Regions from separate parts of the Homo sapiens genome. Here region 2 is reported to be linked to region 1. Evidence: microRNA targets listed by miRTarBase, many of them from high-throughput screens and not tested one by one. Region 1 holds a microRNA gene; the other region holds the end of a gene's coding sequence.

Evidence for each region. Region 1 holds the annotated microRNA hsa-miR-4670-5p (AAGCGACCAUGAUGUAACUUCA, at 2,714-2,735, shown strand). A microRNA usually pairs through its seed, bases 2 to 8, with sites in the 3' UTR of a target mRNA and lowers its output. Matches are read on the target gene's strand: a 7mer-m8 pairs with bases 2 to 8, a 7mer-A1 pairs with bases 2 to 7 and ends in A, and an 8mer does both.
Region 2: miRTarBase lists TASL as a target of hsa-miR-4670-5p. Seed matches in the 3' UTR shown: 7mer-m8 at 3,156-3,162.

Annotation. Positions count from the first base shown.
Region 1 is chr9:92,523,765-92,530,764 of GRCh38, reverse strand. It overlaps MIR4670 (microRNA 4670), which reads left to right and starts at 2,707; the gene lies at 2,707-2,781. The region is part of intron 5 of CENPP (centromere protein P); the gene reads right to left. All of the region lies in intron 1 of ECM2 (extracellular matrix protein 2), which reads left to right.
Region 2 is chrX:30,551,356-30,562,029 of GRCh38, reverse strand. TASL (TLR adaptor interacting with endolysosomal SLC15A4) reads left to right here. Exons shown (of 3, transcript NM_025159.3): 3 at 1,674-3,221. The coding sequence starts at 1,675. The coding sequence ends at 2,580. Among named protein-coding and RNA genes, the nearest start is that of TASL, 21 kb to the left of the region's middle.

The DNA.
Region 1 (7,000 bases):
CATAATATACTCAGTTAACAAACCTGCATACAACCCTCCTGAATCTAAAAAGTCAAAAAAGAAAAAAAATGCAACTACATTAATATTAGACAAAGTAGATCTTATAGCAAAAGCACTCCCGGAGACACTGAAAGTATCCACCTAATGATAAATGCACCAGAAAGATATAACGACTAAATTTGTACATACCTACAATCATTAGGACAAACAAGGCAAATTATTAGGACAATTTGAACAAATAGGTTAATAGTATTAAAGTCTTTAAAATCCTTATTGATATTCTGTCTACTAATTAAAAAATATTAATTACTTTTTATTGGCATAAAATGACTACTAATTTTTTAACAGACTTTTTTTCAAAGCAGTTTTAGATTCAGAGCAAACTGAGTGGAAAGTACAGAGTTCTCATATGTGCTTTTCCCCTACTATCAAAATCTCACACCATGGATAAATCTATGCTGACATATCATTATCACCCAATGTCCATAGTTTACATTAGGGTTCACTCTTGTTACTCTGTATTCTTGGGTTTTGACAAATTTTTAATGACATGTACCCACCTTTATAGTACTGTCGTCCCTTGGTACCCTTGGGGGACTGGTTCCAGGATCCCTCAAGGACACCAAAATCTGAGGCTGCTCAAGTTCCTTATATAAAATGGTGTAGTATTTGCATATAATACACATATCCTCCTGTATACTTTAAATAATCTCTAGATTACTTACACCTAATACACTGTATAGGCTATGTAAGTAGTTGTTATACTGTATCATTTAGGGGACAATGACAAGAAAAAAAAGTCTGCATATGTTCAGCACAAAAGCTACATAGGCCAAACTACATTTTTCGCTCATGGTTGGTTGAATCCACAGATGCAGAACCTGTGATATAAAGGGCTGACTATACTGTATCAGAAGAGTTTCACTGCCCTAAGAATCCTCTGTGTTCCACCTATTCATCCCTCTCCGCCCCAAATTCACTATTCTTTTATAGCTTGCATAGTTTTGCCCTTTCTAGAATGTCATAGAGTTGAAATCATACATATGCCATCTCAGGTTGGCTTATTTCATTTAGTTATATATTATATGCATTTAAGGTTCTTCCATGTATTTTCATGGCTTGATGGCTCATTTCTTTTTGGTGTTGAATAATATTCCATTGTCTGAATATACCATAGTTTTTTTTCCATTCACCTATTGAAGAACATGTTGGTTGCTTCTAAGTTTTGGCAATTATGAATAAAGCTCCTATACATATCTGCGTGCAGGTTTTTGTGTGGACATAGATTTTCATCTTATTTGGGTAAATACCAAGGGGCACGATTGCTGGGTTGTATGGCAACAGTATGTTAAGTTTTAAAAGAAACTGCCAAAGTGTCTTCCAAAGTGGCTGTACCATTTTGCATTCCCACCAGCACCGAATGAGACTTACAGTTGCTCCACACACTCACCAGCACTGGGTGTTGTCAGTGTTTTGGGTTTTAGACATTTGGTAGGTATGTAGAGGCATCTCATTTTAATTTGTAATCTGTCTACTATTTTTGAAACTAATATTTAGGATTGAAGTGTTGAAATTTTGGATGACAATTGTGGATTTGTCTATTTCTTTTTGCAGTTTTTGAAAACAAGTTTACCAATTATTTTTGGTAATGTCTAATCTGCTATTCATCCCTTGTCATGTATTTTTTCTCTCTCACATTGTAGTTTTCATCTTTAAAAGTTTGATTTGGGTTTTTAAAAATATCTTCTATGTTTCTACATTACATGGTTAATCCTTCTTCTCACTTCTTGAACATATAGAATATAGGTATAATGATTTTTAAACACCTACTTTATTAGTATATCAGCACTGTCATTTCTGAACTGGTTTCAATAAACTGATTTTTCCCATTATGGGTCAACTTTTCCTGTTTCTTTGTGTACCTGGTAAATTTACATTGGATCCTAAAACATTTGTTGGGTTATCTGAGACACTGTCAAGTTATTGTACGCAGTTTAATTCTTTCAGAAAGGCTTGCTTTTAAGCTTTATTAAATGGGATCACAGCAGCCTTTAGCCTAGGGCTAATTATTTTCCTCTACTGAGCTAATGCTCTTCTGAGTACTCTACCAGATGCCCTGTGAATTGTAAGGTTTTCCACTCTGACTGGTGGAACACAAACTCTTCCTGGTCTTTTTTAAGCTCCAGAGACCTGTTTTTTTTGTTTTGTTTTGCTTTGTTTTCCCCTTTGTCCTTTAGGTTAGTTCTTTTCCCAGTCTCAAGTATTAATAGTTTACTTACATACATGTGCTATCCAGTACTCAGTGGAAGACTTCACATCTCTGGAAGGGTTCCTCTGGGCTAGCTCTCACCTCTCTGTACTCTGCCCTAGGAACACTAGTCTCTTTGGTGTCCTCAGATTTCCAGCTGTATCTTTTCAACTTATGGAGACTGCTGGACTCTGCCTGTGTTCCCCTCACTGCAACTCCCTTGAGGGAGTAAGCAGGTCAATCACAGGTCTCTCCGGGCATTTGATTTGCATCCCCTTTCAGGGATCACTGGCCTGGACTGCTCTTTGTTTAATGTTTGGAAAATGCTTCAGATATATGTTGCTCTATTTTTAAGTTGTTTCAGGTGGGAAGGTATACGTAGTCCCTATTACTCCATGTTGGCTGGGAGTCAGATTTGATAAGTTTTGTCATAATACTGGTGTAATGGCTGAATGATTCTCTAGGAAGCGACCATGATGTAACTTCACAGACTCTCCAAAAGTCTGAAGTTACATCATGGTCGCTTCCTAGAGTATCATTCTACTTCATGGAGCCACTCTGGTTACTAGTTGTCAAACTAGTAGGAATGTTGTTATGGCAATACAGGGAAGGTGATCTCCACAAAACCATGCTCATTTTCTTGGCCTTCAGGTGATATACTGTATGCAGAATGTAAAAAATAGGTCAGTTAGTGACATCTGTACTTAGGCCAAGGACCCAGGATGGCAGCCATATGTTTGCTACTACCATTGTAGGTTTCTACTAAGAAACAATCACAATATTTGCCAAGACTTAGCACTGATCACCCTGCATTTCCTAAACATTTGGGTGGTAGACACTGTGGCTTGAGGAAGGCATTCATTACCCTGAGCTCATGCTCATGGTTTTCAGTTTAGATACCCTTGGAATTTCCCACAGCTTGTCTTAGGTTGTGAAGCAGACTTCTAAGAATCTGGATATCAACAAATTACAGTCATATGTCACTTAGCGACAAGGATACATTCTGAGAAATGTGATGTTACATGATTTTGTTGTCATACATCATAAAGTGTACTTACACGAACCTAGATGGGACAACCTACTATACACCTAGGCTATATGGTAGAGCCTATTGCTCCTAGGCTACAAACCTGTACAGCCCATGACTGTACTGAAAACTGTAGGCAACTGGAACAGAATGGTATTTGTGTATCTAAACATATCTAAAGCCAGGTGTGGGGGCTCATGCCTGTAATCCTAGCACTTTGTGAGGCTGAGGTGGGTGAATCACTTGAGCTCAGGAGTTTGAGACCTGCCTGGGCAACATAGTGAAATCCTGTCTCTACAAAAAAAATATAAAAATCAGCTGGGCATGGTGGCACGGGTCTGTAGTCCCAGCTACTCGGGAGGCTGAGGTGTGAGATTGGCTCGAGCCCAGGAAGCGGAGGTTGCAGTGAGCTGAGATGGTGCCACTGCACTCCAGCCTGGGTGGCAGAGCCAGACCCTGTCTCTAAATAAATAAATAAATAAATAATAAACATATCTACACATAGGAAAGGTATGGTAAGAATATGGTCTAAAATAATTTAAAAAATGGTACACTATCTAGGGTACTTACCATGAATGGAGCTTGGAAGACTGGAAGTCACTCCGGTGAGTCAGTGAGTGAGTGTGAAGGCCTAGGACATTACTATACACTACTGTAAATTTTATAAACACTGTACACTAAGAGTCTACTAAATTTATAAAAAAGTTTTTTTATTTCTTCAATAATGAATTAACCTTAGCTTACTGTAATTTAACTTTATATACTTTTTATTTTTTAAAAAATTTTGACTCTTTTGTAATAGCATTCCTCTTTTTTTTCTTTGTCTAAAGGCTTCTTGATTTTTTTAATCGTTTCAGAAAACTTTTCATTTCATTCCTCTTTTCTATAGTTTTTTTGGTTTCTATTCTGATCTTTATTATTTCTTTTTTTCCACTAATTTTGGGTTTGGTTTGCTGTTGCTTTTCTAGTTCTTTACGATGTATTATTAGGTTGTTTATATGAAGTTTTTCTACTTGTTGATGTAGGTGTTTATTGCTGTAAACTTCCCTCTTAGTACTGCTTTTGCTGTATCCCATAGGTTTTGGTGTGCTGTGTTTTCATCTTCATTTGTTTCAAGAATTTAAAAAAATTCCTTCTTAATAACACTTGGCTTAAAACACAAATACATTGTACAGTTGTACAAAAATATTTTCTTTCTTTATAGCGTAATTTTGTAAGCTTTTTTCTATTTTTATTTTTTAACTTTTCAAACATTTTTGTTAAAAACTGAGACAAACACGCATTAGCCTAGGCCTTCATTGGGTCTGGATCATCAATATCACTGTCTTCCCCCTCCATATCTTGTCCCACTGGAAGGTCTTCATGGGTAATAACACTCATGATAAGAATGCCTTCTTCTGAAATACCTCCTGAAGGAACCACCTCAGGCTGTTGCGCAGTTAATGTTTGTTTAAATAGATAGAAGGCATGTACTCTAAAACAATGATAAAAAGTATAGTATAGTAAATACATAAACCAGTAATATAGTTGTATATGAAAGTATTATGTACTGTACTGTACATAATTGTATGTGCTTTTTTTTTTTTTTTTTTTTTTGGAGATAGAGTCTCTCTGCACTCTGGGCATGGTGGTGCATACCTGTAGTCCTAGCTACTCAGTGCAACCTCCGCCTCCCGGGTTTAAGCGATTCTTCTGTCTCAGCCTCCCGAGTTGCTGGGATTACAGGCGTGCACCACCACACACAGCTAATTTTATATTTTTAGTAGAGATGGGGTTTCACCATGTTGGGCAGGCTGGTCTCGAACTCCTGACCTCAGGTGATCCACCCACCTTGGCCTCCCAAAGTGCTGGGATTATAGGCTTGAGCCACCGCGCCCAGCCTGTGCTGTATTTTTATATGACTGGAAGTGCAGTAGGTTTGTTTATACCAGCATCACCACAAACATTATGAGTAATGCGTTATGCTATGATGCTGTGACGTCTCTAGGCAATAAGAGATTTTCAGCTCCATTATAATTTTATGGGACCATCATGGTATATGCAATTTGTCACTGACAAAAAAGTCATTATGTGGTACATGACTGTACTTTCTTTGGTCAAATGGTCAGACAGAAAGATTGAGTCAAATGCTTGCAGGGTCTTTCAGGTTTTTTCTTTTCTTTTTTTTTTTTTGAGACAGAGTCTCGCTCTGTTACCCAGGCTGGAGTACAGTGCTGCAATCATTGCTCACTGCAACCTTGAACTTCTGGGCTCAAGTGAGCCTCCTGCCTCAGCCTCCTGAGTAGCTAGGACTACAGGTATGCACCACCATGCCCAGCTAATTTTTTATGTTTTAGTTGAGACAAGGTCTTGCTATGTTCCTTACTCTGGTCTTAAACTCCTGGCCTCAAGCAATCCTCCCACCTTGGTTTCGGCCTCCTATAGGGCTGGGATTACAGGCATGAGCCACAGTGCCTGGCCTCTCAGGTATTTTCTGAGGTTCCAACAAGATGACTGGGTTAGCAGTCTATGGCCACTTATCCCTTAATCCTTCAATGCCTCTCCTTTGCAGTTTAGGGTATTCATCTCTGTATGTAACATCACCTTGAATGTTTTACCATTCCTTCCTATCATAGATTTGTTCTGGTTGGCAAAGGAGACCAAGGTATGCCTGTGAGAATTGAAATAAATTTCATCACTGAGCAAGTTAGTTACTTTAACCTTCTAGAATCACCAAATACCTTAAATTCCCATTAAAAAGATAACAGCGGCAAATCTGTTGTGATCTGGGTTCTTATGATCCCTGGGGTTTTAGTTTCTCCTCCATACTGGCTGTGTAAGGAAGGCTTTTCATCTCAGGAAACACTGACAGTGAGTGGACCTGAGGCAAGAGCAGGAGGAAAGCTGCAAGGGGTATAGGTGTGTGTATGTGAGTATGTGTGTGTTTCTCAGCTGTAGAATTCTGAGAGGCAGTCAAAACTGCCAACCTTCCTTTGTAGGACTAACTTTAGGCCAAGAGAGATTGGCTGAGTGAATCCTTTGATGACAGCTGCTGCAACACCTTGATGGAGGTTTCTCTTGTCCCTGGCCACCAGACTTCACAGGGATTGCGCCAGTCTGTCTGACCATAATGCTACTACTGTACCAAGAGTGCCTAAATATTCATTTCTTAAATGTTTTTCAGCTTTACCATGTGCAAGGCCCTATACTAACCCTGAGACCAGCTAATTAAAGAGTTACTCTTCCTGACTCTTACCTCCTTATAACTGATGCTATTGACTGTTATTTTTATATGGCACCATCACGCCCTTCCCCCCAGACAATTATAAAGCTAGAGAATAAAAGCACAAAACAGAAAACGGCTGGGAAAATGGGTTGTGGATTACATCAGTCACAGAACGTCTTAGCAAACAGGTGGAGAGAAATCTCCCAAGTAATCTTTGAAAACCTGCAGAACAGTAGGGCCCAGAGAGGGGGCCATGTCTGATCCACCACCTTTACTGGTAATGAGTTTCCCTGGAACACATCCATGCTCATTTGTTTACAAATTGTTGTTGGGGAAAAGGCTTATGGAGTGCCTGCATAAACTGGCCATAAAAATATGGGACAATAAGTTGTGGAAAGCCACAAGAGGTCTCTGAGGAGGAAAGCCTTCTTATCGCCGTTATGTTCCCATGCTCTGAGTGCAACCTGCTCTCTTATCTATAAACACTGTGCTCAAGGAGAAAGACACTCCTCTGAAACAC
Region 2 (10,674 bases), not on the chromosome of region 1:
TGTTGAGGGCCAGGAAGTAAGTGCATCCCCATTAGTTCTTTATGATAAACTCTTTCTCTGTTTCTTATCTTTCCGTGTAGGTAAGATTGGCCTTTTCACCTGCATATTAGGTTTGAGGGCAGAACTTCACATAGATTTTAAAGGAGAGGACAACTTTTTTTTTTTTTTTAATCCTTATAAGTGTGTTCAGCATACAGAAATTACTTCATGGATTTGTTGAAGACCTTTAGCTTAGTGTCTTCATGGCACATAACTGTGCCCAGAATATAGTAAACATTAAAAAAATTGAGATTTGCTAAATAAACCAGGAATAGTTCCAAAAGAGAAAAAAAAAATTACTATCTTACCCTTATACAATTTTTAAAAAAGGGAAACATTTTATTTACCTGGGAAACAATAATTACATGAATGTAAAAGAGATGTTAACAATTTTTAAAAGGACCTTTATGTATGGTTAAAAAAATCCTTCTTTTCTTATTTGACATTACAAGTTCAGGCTCAAGTTGACAGGTCTGTTTCAGAAGCCCAGCTCTCGAGGCCCAAGAGGACCAGTTTTCCTTGCTGTTGCCTTTTGCCCCAGTGCCGGGAATGCCAGTGTGTTCTGTTTTTAGAAAATGCAGCTGCTGGTTTCTAGCCTGTTCTAGCCACTCTAGACCAGTGACAATTGCTGGGGGTAGGGAGGGGAGGCAGATGTGGGGAAAGTCTATGGTCAGAAAAGCTCCTTGGTAACTAGGAGGTAAACACATCAGTTAGATACAGAGACATTTTCAGGATGTATTCTGAGAACTGGGAGGGAGAGAGAAGGAAATTTATTCTGGGATACAAAGGCAGGGTAGGCTTTGTGGTACTTCATGATGTGTTGAGCACAAATTAATTTCATACCATGTCATTGTTGAAAATTCTTTAACTCAAATTAACAAATACCTTTTGAGTCTCTGTAGAAATGCAAGTAACTGTGCTAGCTCCTAGGGATCCAATACAAAGTTAAGTAAGACACAGCACTTGTTTTCAGTAGAATTTGCCACAGATTTTCTCATTGTTTTGCTCATAATCCACTAGCCATGTTTCTCTCCAATCTGCAACTTCTAGATCACTGTTCATTTCCTACGGGGCAGAATGTAAATGCTTTTGCCTGACTGCCAAGGCTCTTCACGATCCAATTTCAGCCTATTTTCCCAATTCCTTCTGCTTGTGCTCAGCTTCTTTGTATGTGGTGAGTAGGTCATGCCACCATATTATCTTATAAGCCTGTTCCTATGGCTGGAACTCCTAATTACTCTTTAGCATTCAGCTGAAATATCACCTTCCCTATGACACATCCTGTGACTTCTCCCCCTTTGCCCCAGGCTAAGTTAGGGACCCCCCCACCCCTGTACTTCCTTTTTACCTATCACTATTATAATCCTCAGTGATACAATGTTGGAATTGTTTATATCTAGTTGATTTTTTCCTATAGTGGGAAACTTCCTGAAGGATGGAATTGTGTGCTTTTCATTTTTATATCCTTAGCACATGCCATAGTCCTGGTACACAGTAGGCACAGAATTAGTACGAGCTTGGTGAATGAATAAAGTGAATTTATTCATTGTCCTTATTTTTTGATATATCAAGTGCCAACTTCTAAAATTTCAGTATTCTTTTTCCCCATTCTTACTCATCAATTCTCTTTCCAGAATGCTGTCAGAAGGGTATCTCAGTGGACTTGAGTACTGGAATGACATCCACTGGAGTTGTGCCTCTTATAATGAGCAGGTGGCTGGGGAAAAGGAAGAGGAGACAAATTCTGTTGCTACCCTTTCCTATTCCTCTGTGGATGAAACACAAGTCAGAAGTCTCTACGTGAGCTGCAAATCATCTGGCAAGTTTATCTCTTCAGTGCATTCAAGAGAGAGCCAACATAGCAGAAGTCAGAGAGTCACAGTGCTGCAGACAAACCCCAATCCTGTGTTTGAAAGCCCAAACTTGGCTGCAGTTGAAATATGTAGAGATGCCAGCAGAGAGACCTACTTGGTTCCATCTTCTTGCAAAAGTATTTGCAAGAATTATAATGACTTACAGATTGCAGGGGGCCAGGTGATGGCCATTAATTCAGTGACAACAGATTTTCCCTCTGAGAGCAGTTTTGAATATGGCCCTTTGCTGAAGTCATCTGAGATTCCTTTACCCATGGAGGATTCCATTTCTACTCAGCCCAGTGACTTTCCCCAAAAACCTATCCAGCGGTACTCATCCTATTGGAGAATAACAAGCATCAAAGAGAAAAGCAGCTTGCAAATGCAGAATCCTATTTCTAATGCAGTTCTGAATGAGTACCTGGAGCAGAAGGTTGTGGAGTTATATAAACAGTACATTATGGACACCGTGTTTCATGACAGTTCTCCTACCCAGATTCTGGCGTCTGAACTCATCATGACAAGTGTAGACCAAATCAGTCTTCAAGTGTCTAGAGAGAAGAATCTGGAGACCTCAAAAGCCAGAGATATAGTCTTTAGCCGCCTATTGCAATTGATGTCAACTGAAATTACTGAAATTAGCACTCCTAGTCTCCATATTTCTCAGTATAGCAATGTAAATCCATAGAGAGGATGCTTCCATTACTGTCTCGCATTTACTTAAACATGAAGCAACACTTTATCCATTTATTCTGAGAATGTGCAGGAGGGGTTAGTGAAGGGGAATTAAGGGCTAGAGAAGTAAAGATCAGCTGGAAGTCATGTGTGAATCATGGAGAAATCTCATAATATTACACTTGATGAAGGAATATGGTAAGAGGAGCCATAAGGAATGATTTCAAAGAGAGGTGTGTACAGCAAGGAAGCAAAAATAAAAATGATCAAAAAAGAAACGGTTAATTCATTTGAAGAAACATAGGAATTAAAAAAGAAGACAGTCAAATGAGATGAAACAAAAAGGCCAAAAGGTGGCCGGGTGTAGTGGCTCACGCCTGTAATCCCAGCATTTCGGAGGCTGATGTGGGTGGATTACCTGACGTCAGGAATTCGAGACCGGCCTGGCCAATATGGTGAAACCCCATCTCTACTAAAAATACAAAAAATTAGCTGGACATGGTGGTGGGTACCTGTAATCCCAGCTACTAGGGAGGCTGAGGCAGGAGAATCTCTTGAACCTGAGAGGCAGAGGTTGCAGTGAGCCGAGGTCGCTCCATTGCACTCCAGCCTGGGCAACAAGAGTGAGACTCCCGTCTCAAAAAAAAAAAAAAAGTCAAAAGGTTTCAGGGTAAAGAGTTAAGAATATATTTGTTACCCAAATAAATTCATCCAACTTGTTTCTTTTTGAAGGAGATGGACTGTAGAAGGCTGCTATATTTGGGTAGAAAGATAGGGTCAAACAGTTTTCAAAATATGTTTATCTCTCCTTTGTCTATTCTGTATCAGATCATTTAAAGGTATATTGTTTGTAAATATTAAAACTGTAACAAATTATAATTGTGTTTTTATTTTTGAATGGTTTCTTAGTTACAGACACAGCCACAAAACAGCCACTCAAATCTCCTACATCTGTTTCCTGGTAGAGATGAAGTTGTCTAAATGAAAAACACCACATAGCACTAAACCATTTAGTGTTATTTTGCTGTGTTTGATTTTCTTGGTACTAAGCTTCAAAAGAAATTATGAGACCAGGTGCGGTGGCTCATGCCTGTAACCCCAGCACTTTGGGAGGCCGAGGTGGGTGGATCACCTGAGGTCAGGTGTTTGAGACCAGCCTGGCCAACGTGGCGAAACCCTGTCTCTACTAAAAATACAAAAATTAACCGGGCATGGTGGCAGGCGCCTGTAATCCCATCTGCTTGGGAGGCTGAGGCAGGAGAATTGCTTGAACCCAGGAGGTGGAGGTTGCAGTGAGCCAAGATTGCACCATTGCACTCCAGCCTGGGCGACAAGAGCGAAACTCCGTCTCAAAAAAAAAGAAAGAAAGAAATTATGAATCTTATTGTTTCCCTTTTTTTACCTCTTCCTTTTCTCCATGCCCTCTTGACCTGGAGCCAGGAAGGGGTCTTCCATGTCCTTGGAACAAGGTTACAAGCTGTAGGGTCCCATGATATCAAATTCTGTAAACTCATTCACTAGAATAGTAGCTTCACTGCTCTGCATCGCATCTTTCCTCTGGCTCAGGGATTGTCAAACTATGGCCCATTGACCAGATCTAGCCTGCTGCCTGCTTTTGAACTCCCACGAGCAAAGAATGATTTTTCCAATATTTAAATGGTTGAAAAAAAAAAAGCAAAATAAGAACAGTATTTTGTGATGGGTGAAAATTATATAAAATTCAAATTCAGTGTCCATAAAATAAAGTTTTATTGGAACACAGCAGTGCCCATTTGTTTATGTGTTGTCTCTGGCTGCTTTCACACTAGAATGGCAGAGTTGAGTAAAAGTGATAGAGAATATGGCTCACCAAAGCCTAAAACCCTTACTGCCTGGTCCTTGACAGAAGAAGCTTGCCAACCCTGCCTAACAGTAGTGCGTTGTCCATATAGTGGTTACTTGGCTTAATTCAGGTTCGCTGGGAAGGCAGACTCTGAGATGGAGATTGGTAAGTTCCTTGAGGAGTGGTCTTGGGAACAATGTCTGTGATGGAGTGAAGGAAGCAGAAGAGATTTCCACAGAGGCTTCCGCCCATCTCACAGGGAGCCCCTGGAGCTAGGGTGACCCTTCAAAATGGTTACAAATGGAAACAAGAGGGTCAGCTTTTATACTCCAGCATCTACCAGGAGCGGAGTGTAACCTTAGCCTAGGCAGTTCAGTGGAGGAGGGCAATCCCCAAAGTAGGAATCGACTGTGTCTTCAGCAGCCAAATTCCAAGCAGCTACTGGGGGAATGAGCTCCTCACCCCGAAAGAGCAATCTGGGTGGAGCAATCCTCTGCATTTAGCAGTATTTGTATTTGTAGAGTGAATGGATATATATATATATTTTGGATATATGTTTTTTCACAATATATGCTATTGTGTAAGGAAATCTGGTTTTGAAATAATTATTAGAAATGTTATTCACTGTTTCAAAACTATCACAATAATAAATGCAATATACTAATTGCTTGCTCTGTGTCTAGCACCATGTTAAGAATTTTACAAGAATTATCTTACATAATTCTTATAATAATCTTATGAGGTGGAATGTCTATTATTATCCCCATTTTACAGATGAGCCTGCTGGGCTCAGGGAAATTAAATAATTTGTCCAAGGGCACACAGTAAATAGTGGAATTGGCTTTGAGTTCAGTTTTATTTAACTTGAAAGCCCTGGTTCTTAACCACTATCACCTGCTTTTTCTGTTCACCACTCTATTTGTCTCACTAAAGATTTTTTTTCTGCTCTGAGTGGAGTCAACTCATTAATTTCTTATGTTATCTCATCTTTCCTTTTTAGTGTTTTGCTTGATATACTATTTATTTGTATGTCTTCCTGCCCAGAACATGAACTTTGATTTATCCACATGCTTTTCCACATCCTAAACATTACTTGCACACAGTAGGCAACCATTTCATATTTGTTAAATGGATAAATATGTTTTGGTCATGTTGGCTACTGCATTTGGTGATTGAAGTAAAAGACCATCAATATGAAAACCAGATAATTCTGACTAGAAAAAAAATGCTATTGAGGTTTTCTCAAGGCATAAACTAACTAAATAAATGAGCCTAATTTATTACAGCAGGTTAATAAATGGTACAATAGAATGCATGGTTATTTTCCGTTGATTCCCAAGATATAATTTGTTACAAAGTAGGCTGCATCAGTTTTTTTCAATGAATATTTATTTGATGTTGTGTTTTTGTTTTGCTTTGTTTTGACTTTTGAGTTGGAGCACTGTGTATTAAGCATATGGAGGGAAGACATACGTGTGTATACACACACAGGAGTAGGCCCTGCTCTCTGAAAACTTACCATATTGTCATGGAGACCTGGAAGATAACTAAGGAAGAAGTAACAAAGCCATTTATTAGGCAAGAACTTGGCAAAGTGATACAAACAGGAATAAGATGATCAATTATTGCAACTCAAGTGTAGTGAGTGCTGAAAAGGAGACATGGTAGGGAGTTCTAGACAGTTGGGGAGCCCAATGTAAGAAAAGCTTCCAAGGGGGGAAGTGATGGTTTAAATAACTCTTGAAGAACAAGATCAGATCTAAGCAAATGGGTAGGAGAAGCGTTCAGGTAGAAGTATGAGAGGGTTTGGTGCAACAGGAAACTGCAAGTCGATGGCTGTAACTGGAACTGAATGAGTGTATGAATAGGCAGGATATTCGGTTTTTAAATTGCTATTGTGACAAATTAATAGAGTTTAGTGGCTTGAAACAACAAAAGTTTATTATCTTACATTTCCAGAGATCAGAGGTTCAAAGTCATTCTCACTGGGCTAAAATGAAGTTATGGGCAGGGCTGCCTTCCTTCTGGAGTCTCTAGGAATAAGTGAGTTTCCTTGCTCTTTCCAGCTTCCAGAGGCTGGCAGCATTCCTTGGCTCTGGACTTTGATCTCTGCTTCCATCCTCACATCTCCTTCTCTGACTCTGATTCTTCTGCCTACCTTTTATAAGGACCCTTGTAATTACAACTGGGCTCACCCGAATAATTGAGGATAAGTTTCCCATCTCAAGATGCTTCATTTAGTCATACTTGCAAAGTCCCTTTTGCCATGTAAGTTAACAGTTTCACAGGCTCCGCGGATTAGGACGTAGACATTTGCAAAGGGGGAAGGTAGAATTATTCTTTCCAACACAGACAGTAGCAAAAGCATTTGTGACTCTTAATTGTCAGAACTTTGCCTCTCTAGCACTAATTCTCTTTATTTAAGATGGATAAATCCATGTTTGTTTATATATAAAATAGTTTGCTTCTCTTTTTGTCTCCTGTCATCTAACACTATATATATTTTTTCTGTATACTTTAATTCACTCTATCTCTTGCTCATTTTAGTTGCCCAGGCTGGAGGGCAATGGTGCGATCTCAGCTCACAGCAACCTCTGACTCCCGGGTTCAAGCGATTCTTTTGCCTCAGTCTCCCAAGTAGCCAGGATTACAGGTGTGTGCCACCACGGCTAACTAATGTTTTGAATTTTTAGTCGAGACAGGGTTTCCCTATGTTGGCCAGGCTGGTCTCTAACTCTTGGCCTCAGGCGATCCACCCGCCTCGGCCTCCCAAAGTGGTAGGATTATGGACGTGAGCCACCACGCCCGGCCAAGACTATTTTCTTAAGTAAGGTAAATTGGGTGGTTGTAGGAAGAAAACATGGCCTGTGGGTCCTAGAAAATCAGGAACCTGGAACTGACAGTCTGCTGTGACTCCCACCCCTCCCTCTGCGGAGGTGGCATGGATTCAGAGAGGACCAACCTGTGGAGAATGGGATCATAGGAAACCCTGAAAAATTACTGGGTTCCTTCTGTAATCTAGAAGCAGGAGACACTTGAGGACCAGAAGGTGCCATGCAGACAGAATAATGAGCTTCTTGGTAACCTGTAGTAACCTGTGTCCACTGATGACCAATAGTCTATGGCTTGAAGATCATCCACAATCTCCTGCCTTGCCCTTCACTGGCACTGTATGACATTCTAGGACTGTGAACCAACCCTGGGGAGGATTGAAGAAACCAAGAATAACTGAAATGAAATTTTCTGCCACCATGGAAGAATGGAGGTCCAGCTTCAGAAATTTAGCCATTCTGGAAAGAAAAAAAAAAGAAAGAAATGAAGAAAAGAGGAAAGGAAGGAAGAAGAAAGAAAGAAAGAAAGAAAGAAAGAAAGAAAGAAAGAAAGAAAGAAAGAAAGAAAGAAAAAAAGAAAGAAAGAAAGAAGAAAGAAAAAAGAGAGGTGTTATTAATTATACTTCTGAGTTTGTGGAGAAGTTGAAGTTAATTAGACTCCTATTCCTCCGCCCTGTCCTGGGACGAAATAACCTAAAGACAGAAACCTGTTACTTCTGAAGTAACATTATGAAGTAACTTCTGAAGTAGCATTATGAGAGGGACAAATGAGAAACTAGCTTTAGATCTAGTCTAGGAGGAAGAGGCAATGGAAATTAGGAAATTGTGTTTCTCCCCTCCTTCTCCCTTCCTCTTCTTTTTTCCTCTTTCTTTCTCTCTCTCTTTCTTTCTTTCCTCTTTCTTTCTCATTCCTTCCTTCCTTCCTTTTTGTTTCTCTCTCCCTTCATTCTTTTCATTCATTCTCTTTCTCTCTCTCCCTCTTTCCATCCTTTCCCTTCCCCCTCCCACTCTCCCATCCTTTACATTTCTTTCCTTTTCTTCTTCTCTCCCTTCTTTCCCCACCTTTCTTTACTTTTATCTTCCCTACTTTTTTCTCTCTCTGTTACTATTTATTTTGTTATTTTTTAATTTTTTTTGAGACAGAGTCTTGCTCTGTCGCCCAGGCTGGAGTGCAGTGGCGCGATCTCCGCTCACTGCAAGCTCCGCCTCCCGGGTTCACGCCATTCTCCTGCCTCAGCCTCCTGAGTAGCTGGGACTACAGGCGCCCGCCACCACGCCCGGCTAATTTTTTGTATTTTTAGTAGAGACGGGGTTTCAGCGTGTTAGCCAGGATGGGCTCGATCTCCTGACCTCGTGATCCACCCACCTCGGCCTCCCAAAGTGCTGGGATTGCAGGCGTGAGCCACCGCACCCGGCCTACTATTTATTTGATAAAATGCTAATTTCTGAAATTCCAAAAATGTTTCTCCATTTTATTTTATGTAATGCTAATGAATAAGAAGTTAATTCACGAATATTGCATAAAAGAAATCCAAATAGTGATGACTTCTCACTTCAGCACCCCTTTGCCTTCCAGATTCCCTGCCAGCAAGGCTCACAATATTCTACACTTGTACAAATATATAAATTTATATATTATATACACACACACACACACACACACACACACACACATATATATATATAATTTTTTTTTTGAGACAGAGTCACGTTCTGTTGCCCAGGCTAGAGTGCAGTGGCACGATCTCGGCTCACTGCAACCTGCGCCTCCCAGGTTCAAGCAATTCTCCTGCCTCAGCCTCCCGTGTAGCTGGGACTACAGGCACTGGCCACCACGCGTGGCTAATTTTTGTATTTTTAGTAGAGACGGGGTTTCACCATGTTGGTCAGGCTGGTCTCGAACTCACGACCTCAGGTGATCCGCCCGCCTCAGCCTCCCAAAGTGCTGGGATTACAGGTGTGAGCCACCAGGCCTGGCTGTAAGTTTATATTTTTAAACAAATGATACTGTACTATTCTGTCCTTTTGTCACTTAACTATACACATTTCCATAGGAAGGAGTGTTGTAAAGGGTTTGAATCATATATACTCTGTGAGGAGGACACCAAGATCCCATTCTACTACAGCTTTCTCTAGAATGGGAAATATAGAAATCTGAATAGACAAACCTCAGTACAGGAAAAACAATGAACACTATCTCCCTGTAGGCCATCTCTTTCCTAATGGAAAGAATATTCACATAAAATAAATAAGCCTTTTTCTTTTTTTAGGCACCTAGTGTTAGAGAGTGTAAAATTTAGCTAAAACACACAGGCATTACACTGAAATGGACTGACAGATTGACACTGGTCCATTAACAAACTCCTCAGTTATGGTCCACAAATTCTAGACTGTATTTTTATCTAGCTCTTATTTCTATGTCTTGTCCACAATGATATTATGTTGACTAATGTGTTATCGTGTGACAACTTGACTGGACCATGGGGTGCCCAGATATCTGGTCAAACAAATTTGGTTCTGGATATGTCTGTGGCAGTGACTTTAAATGAGACTAACATTTGGAAAGGTAGACTGAGTAAAGCACATTGCCCTCCCTAATGTGGGTGAGTCTCATCCAAGTAGTTGAAAGCCTTAATAGAACAAAAAGGATAACCCTCCCCTGAGTAAGATAATTTCTTCTACCTGACTGCCTTCAAACAGGGACATTGGCTTTTTCTTGCCTTCGAACTCAACCTGAGACATTGGCTATTCCTTGGTCTTGAGGCTACCAGCTTTCAGATTAGAACCACATCACTGGTTCTCCTGGGTTTCAGGCCTTCAGACTGGAACTACACCCTGCAGATTTTGGGACTTGTCACTTTCCATAATTGTGTGAGCCAATTTCTTATAATAAATTTATCTATCTATGTATCCATCCTATTTGTTCTGTTTCTCTAGAGAACTCTAACTAATAAAGATTTTATGACAAATTTTCCAGATGCCTTCTTGAAAATAGGATACATTAAGCCTATGGCCCCTTCTTGAGCTATCAGCTTGGTGACACTATCAAAGAGTACAATGAGCTTGATTTGGCATAACTGGTTTGTGATGTGCCATCCGGTAATTAGTCTTTATTTGAAGGCACTCACCCAACATCCTTTAAACCAGGGGTGTCCAATCTTTTGGCTTCCCTGGGCCACATCAGAAGAAGAAGAATTGTCTTGGGCCACACATAAAACACACTAACACTAACAATAGCTGATGACTTTAAAAATTGCAAAAAAATCTCATAATGTTTTAAGAAAGTTTATGAATTTGTGTTGGGCCACATTCAAAGTCATTCCAGGCCACATGTGGCCCACGGGCTGTGGGTTGGACAAGCTTGCTTTAAACAATCTGTTTAGCATTTTCCCTTGATTAATACTAAATTCAGGATACATATTTTTGAGATCTTAACTTAAACAAATTTGGACAT